Homo sapiens: one gene and its partners. The protein of the gene in region 2 purifies or fractionates together with the protein of the main gene of each other region. This does not show direct contact. Each region holds a gene or a part of one and is shown on either strand. Other genes may lie near its edges.

Region 1 (3,500 bases), on a different chromosome or scaffold from region 2:
AGTAAATTTTCCAGTTAAGATATATAGTAAAATAAGTGCCAGATGAGTGTTTGGGTTCAGGCTGTCACTGTTAAAACAGAAAAAGTGGCTATACAAAACAGAACAAAAATAAGTATAAGGAAAAGAAGTTTCTGAATCAACCATGATAAGGATCAAACGTCTCTTTATTATTAACGCTGTCAAATGTGTTACTTTTTTTTCCTTCTACAGACCCAAAACAGTATCTATACTTACAAGCTGCCAAAATGTCCCTGATTTTCATAGGTTATATTTTGGAGAAGACTTACTCATATATTTCTAAATTAGTTATTTTGTTTTCAGTCACATAGTTGCTTGGGATTAAGCCTTCATTCCTACAACAAAAGAAAAAGCAAAAATCAAAATGCTTGGCATGTTTGTGGCATTATCATGGCAACAATCCTTTTAAAACCTCAAGGATGTAGGGGGGAAATCAAATTCATTTTACTGATTAAATTGTTAAAAGGAGAAAAAAAAGTTTTTTTATTTCTAACTCAACAAAAATCTCTGTACAAGGAATGTATTAAGATGCCAACTTGTAATGTGAGTAGTTTAAGAGGTTTTATGACCCCACAATCTTTTCAGAGAGAAAAAGGGGCACTTAAATGATCATCTGATATCATAGTGATTATGTTAAAAACACAGCAATTACAAAGACATCGACTTCATTCTTTTCAATTGCTGAGGAGTATTCCATAGCATAGGTATTCTAGTTTAGCTACTTTGCTAGTAGAAGCAACGCTGTAAAGAAATCCTTGAACACGCCTTCTTGTACAGAAGAATATTTCTCAAAGACAGATAGCAAAGACGGGAATTGCTAAGTCACGGGATATGTACATCTTTCAGGATATGCAACAAATTGTCCTCAAAGGAGGATATACCAACTTACACACCTATCAGCATGGTAGAAGTTTCACTTTTCCTATACCTTAACCAACATTTGAAATTACAAAAAGATCTCCAAGACATATTATTGAGAAATAAAAGTAAGTTGCAGAATCATGCAGAAAGTAAGATAAGATTTAGGTAAATGAATTCTACAAACAATACCATATATTTTGATATGTGCATGTAAGTATACTGAAAATAATCTGAAAATGGATAATAGTATTTACTTTTGGGGAGACACTTGGGTTTGGAGGTAGTGGCAAAGCAGAATTTTGACATTAATGTTTGCATATTATATATTTTTAAAAACTCTATTCACTTACTGTGAAATAAAAAATTCAATTTTTAAGTCTGAGGCATGCCAATAGTATACCCGCAGGTGTGGCTAATTACACAGTCCTGAACCTACTAATGCCTCTTTTTCCACTGAAAAGTCTCCACCACATGTTGAGAACTGTTAAGAGAGCCACATCATTGAGAAAATGTAGTTGGAGAGGTATGTAATTTACATGCTTATAATACTTAGATACTTAAAATCTCCAAATCTTGGCAAATATCAGAAATCAATGCCAGCCTTCTCTCTCAGGAAGTCCAGATATTCCTCAGAATTCTTCTCAACTCAGGACTCCAGTCAGGCATTAACCATCTGTTGCAATTGGCACAATGAAACCTATCTGCATCCCAGGGTCTTTTTTCTTTCTAATCTAATTCAGCAGCGACTGCAATGTTTGCTTTCAAAACTAGTCATTCTAGAAACATAAAAGTGAATAAAATACTATTTCTGTTCTTACCTTAGAGCTTAACAGGAAAAAACTGACAAATTCCCAAATGAAAGCACAAATTAGAATAAGAACCTACATTGTCAGAATTATTATTTCCATTGTACAAATAAAGAAACAAAAACTCAGAGACGGTAAGTGACTTGCCCGGGGACACACAATAGTAAGCGGCAGCATCAGGATGTGAAGCCAGGTGTATCTGGTTCTGAGACTCTGCCTGAAATCACTGTTCTCTCATTCTCTCACACATCCTGGGGGAGAGGGGACAGATTCCATTTCATGCAGAGGGAAGAGTTATAAGCCTGAGTCACTAAGTAGTCTTCTTTGTGTTGGAAGAATTGGATACTGACTAAGTCATGTAAGTGTCTTACCCCAAACGGTCTCTTGCCTTCCACCAGTGAGGATTGTATTTCTCCAGTATCAGGTATTCTTCTGCTCTCCTTAAGGCTAAATTACAGGGTTCTCTGGGCAGAAAATCATAAAGTGCCTTGACTTGGATCTTCTCTTCAGCAACCTCAGAGGGTGGGAGGGGAGGCAGTGGCTTTCGTTTTGACGGCTGCACACGGCCCGTGTTGGACTGTGAAAACCAATAAGTGAGTTGTTTTACTATCATTTTAATAATTTGTACTAAAAAATATAGGGACAAAGCATATTTGCCTTCTGCCTCACTTTTCTTATCCAGCTACACCAAGGCAGAAGCCAGGATGAGATAAATGTAGAAAAGGACTAACTATAAAACTCCTTTAGGATCCAGCAATACACTCATCATTTTGTACACTTTTGAGATCACAAGTTCTCTTGACAGCATTTTACTGGATTTTTTTTCATATCAAAATTTTCAAAAGATGATGTACTCCTCTTCAATAGTTTTACCTTGTTTTAAGGATTTTTTTTCTCCTTAAAAGAAGAAAAATGGCCTTTTTCTTTTTATGTGGTGGCAGTTTGTGCTTGGGTTTACCATACTTCCTAAGAATGCTGTTTCTCACTGAAGTGAAAATTAATCTCAGCCTCAAAATGACAGAAGCCAGAATATGTTTTTTCCCACTCATTGCCCATTTTCAAGTTCTGCCTTTAAATATAAGTAGCCTATTTTAACTGGTCTTTTCTTTTTCCTTTTACTTTCTTCTAGAACATTCCTTCACAAATTACTGAGCACTTATTTTATGCCAAGCAGGATACTAGATTCTGGGCAACAAACAGCACCTCATGAATGAAGACTCTAAAAAGACAACCTTCTCCATTCCCCTCTTGCCTGTCAAAATGATACTTACTTGCTTCTTATTTGACAATTGGCTGAGCCACGGCCTGCGACGCTGGGTGTATTTTTCTGGAAGCTCTTCATCTGTGCTCAGGCTTATCTGTGTTCTCATTTGTCTGACATTGAAAAGCAATCATGTTACAAATAATTATTTGTACAAAAGTTATCTATACATCCACTAGATTTTCACAGAAATAGCAGAAAAATCCAGGTCTCTTTCCAACTCCATTTTCATTTAGAAGGCTTCCTAACTCCATCTCCCTGGGCAAATTACTGGTTTTAAGAACTTAAGTTTCCTTCTCCAGGAACTAGAGGTGCTAAGAGCATAGAGTTGTTATAAAATAAAATTGAGAAAACATGTCACATTCCCAGTAGAGTCTGGTGCATCTTCAGGGCATAAAGTTATAATCATTGTAATGAAAACTTACTCCATATCTGGCTCAGTGTTTGTCATTTTATATGCATTACCTCATTTGATGGTGTCTTTTTGTTATAAATAGACATGGTATAGTGATTAGGAACAAGAGTTTGAATCCCAGCTCCACCATTTCATAGTG
Region 2 (3,500 bases):
CTGCTTTACCAAGGCCCAGTATCCCAGACACTGGCCACTTGCTTTTTCATATCCTTTCCTGAGGTTTCTTCTCACTGCTAGTAAATAGCAGTGCAAGTCTTAATATATTATGAAATAAAGCTACAATCACAATGACTAACTCCATGCAATATAGGAAAAGCCTCGCTGAACAGATGCCACAGAGCCAAGCATCTCCCACCCAGCCCTCTTAGTGTCTACCATGAACATCCTCACAGAGCAACTCCACCGCCTATTACGGGGAGGCCTCTAGCTTCAGCCCTAGGGGCAAAAGTAAGGCAGGGCTCAGCAGCGTTCCAGAAATCAGGGGTGCTCAGGTAGAGAAGCAAAGTGGCCTTCCCAGGGATAGGACTACTGAGGTCAAAAGGAAAGGCAGGAAAAGCCACAGAAGAATTGGAAGTGGCAGGAAGTCTAGACAGAGTGAGCAATGGCTGGGGGGAAATAAATTACGATAAAAACACATTTCTTTATTTTAAAAGCCACAGTCATGGTGCAGGCATTTTGCTGTTGACCTGAACAACAAAATGGGCCTTATGCTCTGTGATGAGATAAGTGAGTAAGGGGTGAACCAAGAGGGGTGGTTCACTTGGAGTGCCTGAACATGATCCTTCACCGACAGGGAGAAGCCTTGGCCAACAGAACCATTAATCACTGTCTGCTCCCTTCATTTGCGTAAGAAATGTGATTCACTCCAATAAAACTGGCTATTGGCAGAGGGGAATCGAACGTCTGACTTGTGAGTCTAAAAGAGCCAGCTGTTCCAGCCTCCAGGATTCAGTGAGAACTTCCTATTTCAAGTTAAGTTCCCAGCTGTCCCAAGGCTTAGGAAAGGGGGATAAACCCAGCCACCCCCACCTCTAGACACATGCTCCAGCCAACAGCAGGAGTGTTGCAGATTTTATCAGCTTCTTAAATGCATTAGGGGTTGAAATTAGACACCTCGGTGTGGTTTAAGAGCAAGAGAAGGGCCAAGTGAACCCAGGTTGGGATAACAAATGAGACAAGAGTCGTGAGAAAAGGCCTGAGGTCCAACTTCCAATTGAAAGGTTTTCTAGCCTCCCTGAAATCCTACATCCAAGGGCCCCACACCCCAGTGGCCTTGGGATCACAGCGGGGGTCCTGTGCAGGGAAGTACACGGGGACTGAGTGTTTATGGTAGAACTGTAGGCGGGACAGGAGCTTTGTGACGATGTGAGGATATTCTCTGGACAGGTCATGTCTTTCTTCAGGGTCCCGATCAATATCAAAGAGCCAGAGGGTCTTGGTTGGTGGGTCTGATGAGGGTATCTCAGAAACATTGTATTGAGACGGTGGAGGGAACCAGTAACCACAGCCTAGCAAAGAAAACAAAACAGTTTACTGAGGGAGAAGCACAGAGGCAGGTTCTAATTTCAGGGAAGGAGTCTGAGGCCAAGGCTGCACTGGGTTGTGGGTGTGGAAACATAAAAAGATGCGGCCCTAGATGCTGTCTCTAGATGCTTCTCAGACTTGACTTCTGGTGCTTTAACTAGACATGTCTCACTGCTTCACAAGCAAGGACACCCAGAAACGTGTGTGCATGTGTGTATGTCCTTGTCACAAGGACTAGGGCATAGGGGTGCTCCTGGCATTTAGTGGGCATGAGCTAGTGATGCTAAAGTCTTGCAATACATGGGACAATCCCAGTCAAAAAAGACTTGTCATATTGCAAACGCCAAAAATGTTCTCATTGTAAACATTGATTAATTACATCACAGCCTTAACCATCATCCCACATATTTTAAAAGTATTGAAAAGATATCACTCTTAGAGAATATAATCAGAGGAGCAACCTCCTTCCCCAGCTATACCACTGGTTGAGGGTGTAGCTCTCAGAGACTCTCTTTGTTAGCTAAATGTGCTGTGCTTGATAGCCACATATATTTAAAATCCGTATTTTCCATGAAGCATAAGAGTGACATTTCTTCCTTTCACCCCTGCTACAGTTAATTCTCTCTGTCTTTCTCTCTCTCTCTCTTTTTTTTTTTTTTTTTTTTTTTTTGGTTAGGACGAGTAGGTTAAACCATTTCTTCCTATCTCCTCATTCAGCAGCCCCAGAGATATGTTTTGCAAAAGGCATTTGTTACTTCGGTAAGCTTCTCCTTGATGATCCACTGGGAAAGCTTACTTGCACCATGACAATGATGGAAGCTGTGTAATTGGGAACAGGCGGAGTCTTAGAATTGGGAAAAGAAAACCCTGAATAAATAGTTGTCTTTCTAGGACATATATCAGGAGGGATCATGAAAGATTAGAAAGACAAATTAAGATTTCAGGTATCTGAGCAAAGTGAGGTAAGTGGTAGGGCTTAGGGGCCTTGAGGAGGAGCCACAGAGGAAGAGGTGGGAAACGGTTAGAACAAGAGTGATAATGTCCTCTCTTTCCAGAGAAATGGCCGTGGGAATCAAATCCCAGGAGGGCAGATAGACTGGAGATACTGCCCTGAGGACACAGCCCTGCTTTGTCTACCACGGGAAGGGAAGTTTGCTAAGCTAAGGACTCTACCTGGGTAGCCCGTGAGGAGTTTCCAATTTCCATGTCTAATTGCAGCATGGACAGATGTGTTAAAGGCTGAATATTCTGGAAGAGAAGAGTCATCCTTTGCTGGAGCCATGCTGTTCCTGGGACCTGGGAAGAAATAGTTTGAAAGAATTAGATCACTGTTATTGGAACGTGTTGTTATAAATCAGCATTTTATACCCTTGCAGAACAGTAGCTTTTATTCAACACTGGAGTGCAAATGTGTATCTTGCCACAGAAATGAATCTTTTATTAAATCCAAACAGAAAGCTATAGTTACATGAAATGTCAGTCATAAACCACCGCAAATATAAAGGAAATCCCAAAGAGATTACAACACTAATTCATCCTTAAAATCGCTATGTTCTGCCAATGTACAGCTAGCCATATGCAGAACAGTGTTCTGTTACAGCAGAGTGACTTTTTTTTGGTTTTTGTTTTTGGCTGTTAAACATTTAAACACACTTTCTGTGTATACTTATACCTATGTAAATAGTATAAGAAATTATAAAATGTACATTTTCATGCAGTCATTTCAAGCTATGAGAGTTCATGCATGCCATGATAGAGTACAAAGACTTATTTTTTAACAACTCTTAAGGAATCTAAAAGTGAGCAGTGCTCAGTTAACTATTCAGACAGGATAACTATGGGGGTAAGAACAAATTTGGTATACAAATTTTTGGCTGGTATCATGGATTATATTAATTTATCATTTTTGAGATCTTAATTGATCATCAGGTTGGTTTTTTGCTTTTGTGGGGAGCAATTACTAATCTCTACCACCTCTTAAGTTTGAAACCAATTAAGAGGTAGAAGATAGACAGATGGAACAAAAAATACTGCTTTTGTTACTGACAAAATTGACTGGAGAGAATACAGCTTCAGATCTGTAGCAGAGAGATCTTGTTTGTAACTGACCCTTGACTTAGAAAGATTTAATC
Region 3 (3,500 bases), on a different chromosome or scaffold from region 2:
GAGAGAACTGGATCTCGTATGTCCACAGGCACCTGGGGAGGTCAGGCCAAGAACAAGGCTGGGGTCAAGACAGTCCTCAAAGGTGGGAGCAGGCAGGGCACGGCCGCGTGGACCCACAGCCTCATTCCCTCAAGCCCCTCGGCGGCACCTCCCCAGCCCCTGGGCACTCTTCCTGCCCAGGCAGGAGAGGGCTGGAGCCCGAATGTCCATCTCATGTCCCCTAGGAGAACCCACACCCCACTGGCAGGGCCTGGCGCGTGGCCCACAGTGTGTGGGGTGAAGGGCAGGGACGCAGGGCGGCGAGGGAGGGAGCCGATGGGCCACGGCAAGTGGCCCGAGTGACCGCATGGGTGAAGGGGTCGGGACCCAGGGACCTGCCTAGGACCAGGCAGAGGGAGGGGCGGCCCCACTCACGCACTTGGAGCCCACGTGTTCATCCGACCAGACCAGAACCAGCTGCCCTTGGGTCAGGGGCAGGGCGCGGAGCCGCGTGACCTGGGGGAGGGAAGGGCTGTGATGGCGTCGGGGAAGGGGAGTCCGGGCCGCGGCGCGGGTTAGGGGACTGCCACTTGCCTGCCCGGGCGGCTTCTCGGGGCGCGCACACACGTGCACCAGCAAAAGCGACGGCAGCCGCAGCGCGGGGCGCAGGGTCAGGCGGCCGCCGGCGGGTAAGGGGCGGGGCGCCGCGGCCACCGGGTCCTGGGCGCAGTGGCCGGTCCTCAGGGTTCTCCAGGGGAGCTGGGGACGCTCGGCCCGACCTCAGGGCGAACGCCCCCGGCCCACCGCTCCACCTCCCACCCACACCGCCTCGGAGCCCCCGCCCCGGACCCCACCCCCCCGGGACCCCGGCCCGGCCCGGCCCCTCGCCCCTCCGCGGCCCACCTACCTCAGCCGCGCGCATGCGCCGGAACTGCTCTGCCGTGGGGAAGACGGGCCGGCCCAGGCGCCGCCACTCGCCGTCGGGGCTGCAGAGCCCGTTGTCCAGGTAGCGCGTGACGTAGACCAGGCCTGCGGGGCCTGACACTCAGGCCTCGGCTCCCCGGGCCGCCCCCTCCAGAGCCCCAGCGGGGCCAGAGACCTCCCTGGAACCCCGGCTTACCCGGGCCGGGGGGCACCCCGCGCAGCCGCAGGGTCACCGCGACGCTGCGGTTGGGGTGGGCGCGGGTGTCGTCGCTCGCGTAGATCAGCACCGCGGCGCGCCAGGCGTCGGCCGGGCCCTGGGGGCGGTGGGCGCTGGCCAGGACGCCCACCGTGTGGTTGCTGTCCAGGACGGTCCCGGCCTGCGACACTTCGGCCCAGAGCTGCTCCTCATCTGCGGGGCGGGGGGGGGCCGTCGCCGCGTGGGGTCGTTGCCCAGCCGCCCCCCGACCCAGGGCCGGGCCTCCCACCACTCGCTCCCCCTCCCCTTGGTGAAGGAGTCCCCAGGCCCCGCCACGCGGAGGCCGACCCCGGGAAGCGCGCGGCTGGAGGAAGTGCGCTCCCCGCAGCGGGGCCTTCGCAGGAGCCGCTCCCCAGCCTGGAGGGCCCTGGCCGGCCCACCCCAGCGGCCCCGGCTCACCCAGCAGCGCCAGCAGCCCCATGGCCGTGAGCACCGGCTTGCGCAACAGCTGCACGTGCGGCGGGCGGGTGTTGTTGACCTGGAAGCGCGCGGTGAGCGTGCGCTGCGCGAAGGGGTGCGGGTGGTAGCTCAGGAAGGCATTGTCGTTGCTCAGGAGCGCGTAGGGGAAGGCGGAGGTGGTGTTGGCCAGTAGCAGGTTCTGATGCTGCGCGATGACCTGCGGGTGTCCAGGGCAGCTGGGACCGGGTGGCGCGGCCACCGCTCGCCTGTCCCGTCTCGGGAGGAAGGTGGCCGGGGGGCGCGCAGGGCGTTGGGCCGGCCCACCTTCACCACCATGGCCGCGTAGGTCACGTCCGCCCTCCACGGCTGTGGCAGGGACCAGCCCACCAGCGGGTCCGCCTCGTCGTTGTAAATGGGGGTGTCCGCGAACTTGGGGAAGAGCTGCCGGATCTGCTGCGCGACGACCTTCTCCTGCTCCAGGATGGAGATGGAGCTGCGCGCACCCTGCGGGCGGGGCCGCCTCAGCACCACCAGGGTCAGCGCGGCCCGGGGCACAGCGGCTGAGGGCGCAGAACACCGGGGCGGACGGAGGGGCAGGGCGCACCTTCCTGTGGAGGGAGATGTAGTCCAGCCGCACGCCCGCCTCCCCAGTGAAGAAGTTGGTACCGTCGTGGCAGTGGCGCAGGAGGCCCCAGCTCAGCGGGGATCGCGGTGGGGTGTGGAAGGAGTCGCCGGGGCCTCCCAGCCGCAGGGCGGGGCTGGCGGCGCGCAGACCCTCCGAGCAGGCATCGTAGTAGTTCAGGAAGCCTGGGCCGGGGGAGCACTGCGTCTACACCTGCCCTGGGGATGAGCGGCTTAGCCTCTGCTCCTGCCTTCCTCTGCCCCCTTTCAGCCGGGCAGGACCCCAGGAAGCGGTGCACACCTTGCATGGTCATGGAGACGTTGTCAAAGTCGTGGTGGTCTGGCTCATTCCACGTCTCGAAGTTCCACTTGGAAACATGCGCCAGTCCGTACCTACCTGCAGAGGAGCCTTGCTGTCCCCCCAGCACAGGTGAATCTCGCCTCAGTGACTCCCACGGAGGGAGGGTGCAAGGTGATGAAGGGCGTCTGACTCAAGATGAACCCCATCTCCATGCAGGCCAGCCTCCCGCCCCACATCAGGAAGCGCTGGCTCAAGGGGGTCCAAGACCTGGGCGGCGGCCTGGGTGATAGGGGTGCGGCCTGGGTGATAGGGGTGCAGCCTGCCCAGGAGTACCCCCCACCCCAGGGGCCCAGGGCCTTCGCCCACCCACCAAGCCCAGGAGTACCCCCCAGCCTGGGGCCCCAGGGCCTGCGCCGACCACCAACCTATCCCTTGTCACCCCCATCCCCCCACAAGGGCCTGCGCCTGCCCACCAATGTATCTCCTGACCAGGCAGCAGCCTGCGTGATAGGGGTGCAACCTGCCCAGGAGTACCCCCGCCCCGGCCAGGGCCCCAGGGCCTGCGCTCGCCCACCGATGTATCTCCTGGCCAGGCTGGAGACCAAGTCCTTCCACTCAAACACCTGCTGCTTGTCCTCAAAGTCAGTGAAGTGGCCCGAGGCGCTGCCCATCAGCTCAAACCCTGGAACACAGGAGGGCTGCCCCACCGCCCACCACACACCACACCCATGCTCTGCCAGGCCTGTGCTCCGGCACCAAGGCCAGCCCTGAATGGACATCCAAGGACTCAGAGGGGCTGGGTGAGGGAGAGGGTGGGCAGGGCAAGGGGGTGCAGGCGGGCTGGGAGGGCAGAGCCCACAGCTCACCTGGGAGGAGCTGGTTCTCCCTGAGAAGGTCCAGGTACCCGTCCAGGTGGGTGAAGTTGTAGCTCAGGCCCCGTCCAGTGGACCCCCTGCAGAAGGACGGTCAGCGTCAGGAAGCAGGGTGCCCACACAGCTCCATGCTCCAGGCTGGAACCGT
Region 4 (3,500 bases), on a different chromosome or scaffold from region 2:
GGCATTAGAGGCTGCAACAGGAAGAAAGGGGCTTCCAATTCCCACACTGAAGCAGAGTTCTGGCTTTCATGATATAAGTATGTATTAAGCACCAACTATATGCCATGGATTAAAGTAAATACTAAGTACTACAAATATAACAGCAAAACACATAGGGGTTCTTCAAATAACCTCCATTCTGAAGAAGATACGTATTACATAAACAATACATAGGTATATATTTCTAAGAATATGAAAGTAAAATAAAATATTCTGTGAAAACATATACCATTGCACAAAGCAACAAGGAGTGAGGGTTGAAAATACTGCAGGTTTCTCACATGAGATACCTTAACAAGTCAGTCTGGGAGGTGGGGATAGGGTGAGAGTTATCTAAGTGAAGGTAAGACGATGTATGAAAACCTTAAGGTAAGAAGGAATTTAGGATGATTCAAAGAATTTAATACAGGCCAGTGCGAGGCATGGTGGCTCACGCCTGAGAGGCCAAGGCAGGAAGACTGCTTGAGGCCAAGAGTTCCCGACCAGCCTGGTCAACATAGCAAGACCTCATCTCTACAAAAAATTTAAAAATTAGCCAGGTGTGGTGGCACATGCCTGTAGTCCCAGCTACTTGGGAGGATCACCTGAGCCCAGGAGGTCGAGGCTGCAGTAAGCTGTGTTCATACCACTGTACTCCACCCTAGGCAGCAGAGTTAGACCCTGTCTCAAGAAAAAATAAAAAAGAAAATAAATTAAAAAAAATTGGTCAGTAAACGCAGAGCCATACAGAGCACATTACAATGTGTGTGTGTGTGTGTGTGTGTGTGTGTGTGTGTGTGTGTGTGTGTGACAGGTTCTCACTCTGTCGCTCACACTGAAGTGCAGTGGCACCATCACAGCTCACGGCAACCTCCACCTCCCAGGCTCAAGCCATCCTCCCACCCCAGCCTCCAGAGTAGCTGGGACCACAGGCGCACGCCACCATGCACGGCTAATTTTTTCTATTTATTTTTTGTAGAGATAGGGTTTCACCACGTTGCGTAGGCTGGTCTCAAACTCTTGGGCTCAAGCAATACTCCCACCTCAGCCTCCCAAAGTGCTGGGATTACAGGCGTGAGATATCACGCCTGACCATATTACAGATGTTTAAAAATGTGACCCTAATATGTAGGAGTAGCCATGGAAAGGCTTTAAGCAAAGGACCAAGAGCAAACTTGTAGATCTGTGTTTTTAAAAATCACTCTGGATGGTATAAGAAGAATGAATTGAAGAGAGGAAAGAAAAGGTCCAAGATGACTAAGTTAGGAAGCTACCACAGTTGTCCAAGTGAAAAATAATGGTGGCTTGGACCAGCTGGAGCAGTGGATACAAAAGAAGCAGACAGTTTCAAGACATTAGATTCAAAACAGTAGGTCTTAGTGACTGAGCACACACAACTCCCACCATCTGGCCTGGGCAACTAAGTGGACAGAGGTATGACTACTGAGATGGGCCTCACTAGAGAAGCAGAGGTGTGATGGGTGGGGAAAGCATATCATTAAGCTCAAGTAAAAGGTCAAAGAGGTAGTTGGTTATGTGATCAGGTTTTCAGAAGAGTCTGAGGTCCTGAGAAGAGTCTGCTCAAATATGGGCATCTCCACTGAGATAGTATTTAAAAGCATGGACGTGGATGTGAGTCCGCAGGAGAAAGCAAGGAATGAACAAGAAATTTATCAATCCCAAGCCCTGAGGAAACAGTAACATGCAGAGATTAGACAGAAGAGGAGTAAACACCAGTGAAGAACAGGAAAAAGCGTTGGGCCAGAAAAGTAGGAGGAAAACCAGGCAAGTACAGTGCTATGGAAGTGAAAAGGAATGTATTTCAACTAGGTAATGGTCAACGGTGACAAAGAACACTTAAATAAGGATATTAATGATGCTTAGGTTTCCAGGCCAACTCACAGAAACTCATTTCACATATAGGTGGATTACAGCATTCCACTATCTTACAATAAAGCAGTGCAGTACACTGGTTATCACATAGGCTCCAGATCTGCAATGCCCAGGTTTCAATCACAGCACCACTATTTACTAGCTATGTAGCTGTAGGTATAAATTACTTCATGTCTCTATCCCTCAGTTTCCTCATCCATAAAAGGATGGTAAAAAGAATGCCTACCTCAAAGGATTTTTATAATGAATTTTGATAAATGAATGTATGTATTCATTTATTCATGATAAATGAATTTTGATAAATGAATGTACGTGTGACTTAAAACAGCTAGCACAAATTAGTTGCTAGTGATGTAAATGACAGCTACTATTACTTACAACACGGTTTCCATGGGAAAAAACTTTCTGAACTCTAACAGTGGAAGTTTGTCTGAAATAACCTTTCATTAACTTGAGATTGTTCTTACGCCTTACAAATTATGATCTATAAGGCCTTTTCCCAAAAACCTTGAGGAAAACTCTAGATTTGAAATGTATCAAACAAATGTCCATCATATAGAAACTGACAGGTTTTAGAAGAGCTAATCATTACTTTGGTTTTTCAGAGGAGTATTTATCATACTCATTATACCTCATACTAAAAAAAAGTATGCATTAGGAATTCTAAAAACTGGTGCCAAAAGTTATTTCAAGTTAGAAAGGCAAAAAACAGGCCAGGCACGGTGGCTCACACCTGTAATCCCAGCACTTTGGGAGGCCAAAATGGGCGGATCACCTGAGGTCAGGAGTTCAAGACCAGCCTGGCCAATGTAGTGAAACCCCATCTCTACTAAAAATACAAAAATTACCAGCCTGGCCAATGCGGTGAAGCCCCATCTCTACTAAAAATACAAAAATTAGCCAGGTGTGGTTAGCTACTCAGGAGGCTGAGGCAGGAGAACTGCTTGAACCCGTGAGGCAGAGGGTGCAGAGAGCTGAGATCACGCCGTTGCACTCCAGCCTGGGCAACAAGAGCGAAACTCCATCGCAAAAAATAAAATAAAATAAAATAAATAAACCTATTTAAATACAAAATATTTCCATTCCCTTACTTTCTGGTGCATATTCAAATACGAACACATCGATTATCACCATAAAACAGCCTGCCTCTTCCTGTTGTGACCAAGATATAAGTATCAAGTACAGAATGCGGCAATGGATCTGCAGACTCTTGATGACCTTCTTATTTCCCAAGCTATGCAAAGGTATTTACAACATCCAAAACTGCACCCCAAAAGGTATTTCCAACTGCGTGGTGTTCAGCAAAGGACATGTTCATTCATTTAGTTCCTAAAACGAACTGAAATTAGCATAAATAAATGAAGATTTATATGGCCAGTCCTTATCCCTGTACTTTCCAAGTACCTAGCAAGTACTCTGAGAAATATTCAAAAATCTTTCTATAAGCCCCATTTAAGGTATAATGCTGGAGTTTCCCACTCTATTTTTCCACTGTTAGTACAATAAAACTACCTAATAACTAACAGAGCTGTTGTATTCAAAAAAGTATTGTTTCAAACTCATGAAAAGCTGTTTATCATGTACCTTCC

Evidence for each region.
Region 1: the proteins of ARSB (region 2) and TXK fractionate together in Homo sapiens (co-fractionation; one large-scale study listed by BioGRID). This does not show direct contact.
Region 3: the proteins of ARSB (region 2) and IDUA fractionate together in Homo sapiens (co-fractionation; one large-scale study listed by BioGRID). This does not show direct contact.
Region 4: the proteins of ARSB (region 2) and QSER1 fractionate together in Homo sapiens (co-fractionation; one large-scale study listed by BioGRID). This does not show direct contact.

The regions. Positions count from the first base shown.
Region 1 is NC_000004.12:48,110,251-48,113,750, forward strand, and holds part of TXK (tyrosine-protein kinase TXK), read right to left. Parts: exon of another isoform or gene 3,492-3,500; coding exon of another isoform or gene 3,412-3,491; intron 3,060-3,411; coding exon 2,957-3,059; intron 2,263-2,956; coding exon 2,057-2,262; intron 354-2,056; coding exon 288-353; intron 280-287; exon of another isoform or gene 1-279. UniProt on the Homo sapiens protein: Non-receptor tyrosine kinase that plays a redundant role with ITK in regulation of the adaptive immune response. Regulates the development, function and differentiation of conventional T-cells and nonconventional NKT-cells.
Region 2 is NC_000005.10:78,779,311-78,782,810, forward strand, and holds part of ARSB (arylsulfatase B isoform 1 precursor), read right to left. Parts: intron 2,665-3,500; coding exon 2,542-2,664; intron 1,353-2,541; coding exon 1,087-1,352; 3' UTR 1-1,086. UniProt on the Homo sapiens protein: Removes sulfate groups from chondroitin-4-sulfate (C4S) and regulates its degradation. Involved in the regulation of cell adhesion, cell migration and invasion in colonic epithelium.
Region 3 is NC_000004.12:1,000,544-1,004,043, reverse strand, and holds part of IDUA (alpha-L-iduronidase isoform a precursor), read right to left. Parts: intron 3,433-3,500; coding exon 3,347-3,432; intron 3,163-3,346; coding exon 3,055-3,162; intron 2,577-3,054; coding exon 2,481-2,576; intron 2,366-2,480; coding exon 2,163-2,365; intron 2,063-2,162; coding exon 1,883-2,062; intron 1,776-1,882; coding exon 1,559-1,775; intron 1,313-1,558; coding exon 1,100-1,312; intron 1,009-1,099; coding exon 887-1,008; coding exon of another isoform or gene 700-886; coding exon 574-699; intron 496-573; coding exon 419-495; exon of another isoform or gene 415-418; intron 33-414; coding exon 1-32.
Region 4 is NC_000011.10:32,895,811-32,899,310, reverse strand, and holds part of QSER1 (glutamine and serine-rich protein 1), read right to left. Parts: intron 1-3,500. UniProt on the Homo sapiens protein: Plays an essential role in the protection and maintenance of transcriptional and developmental programs.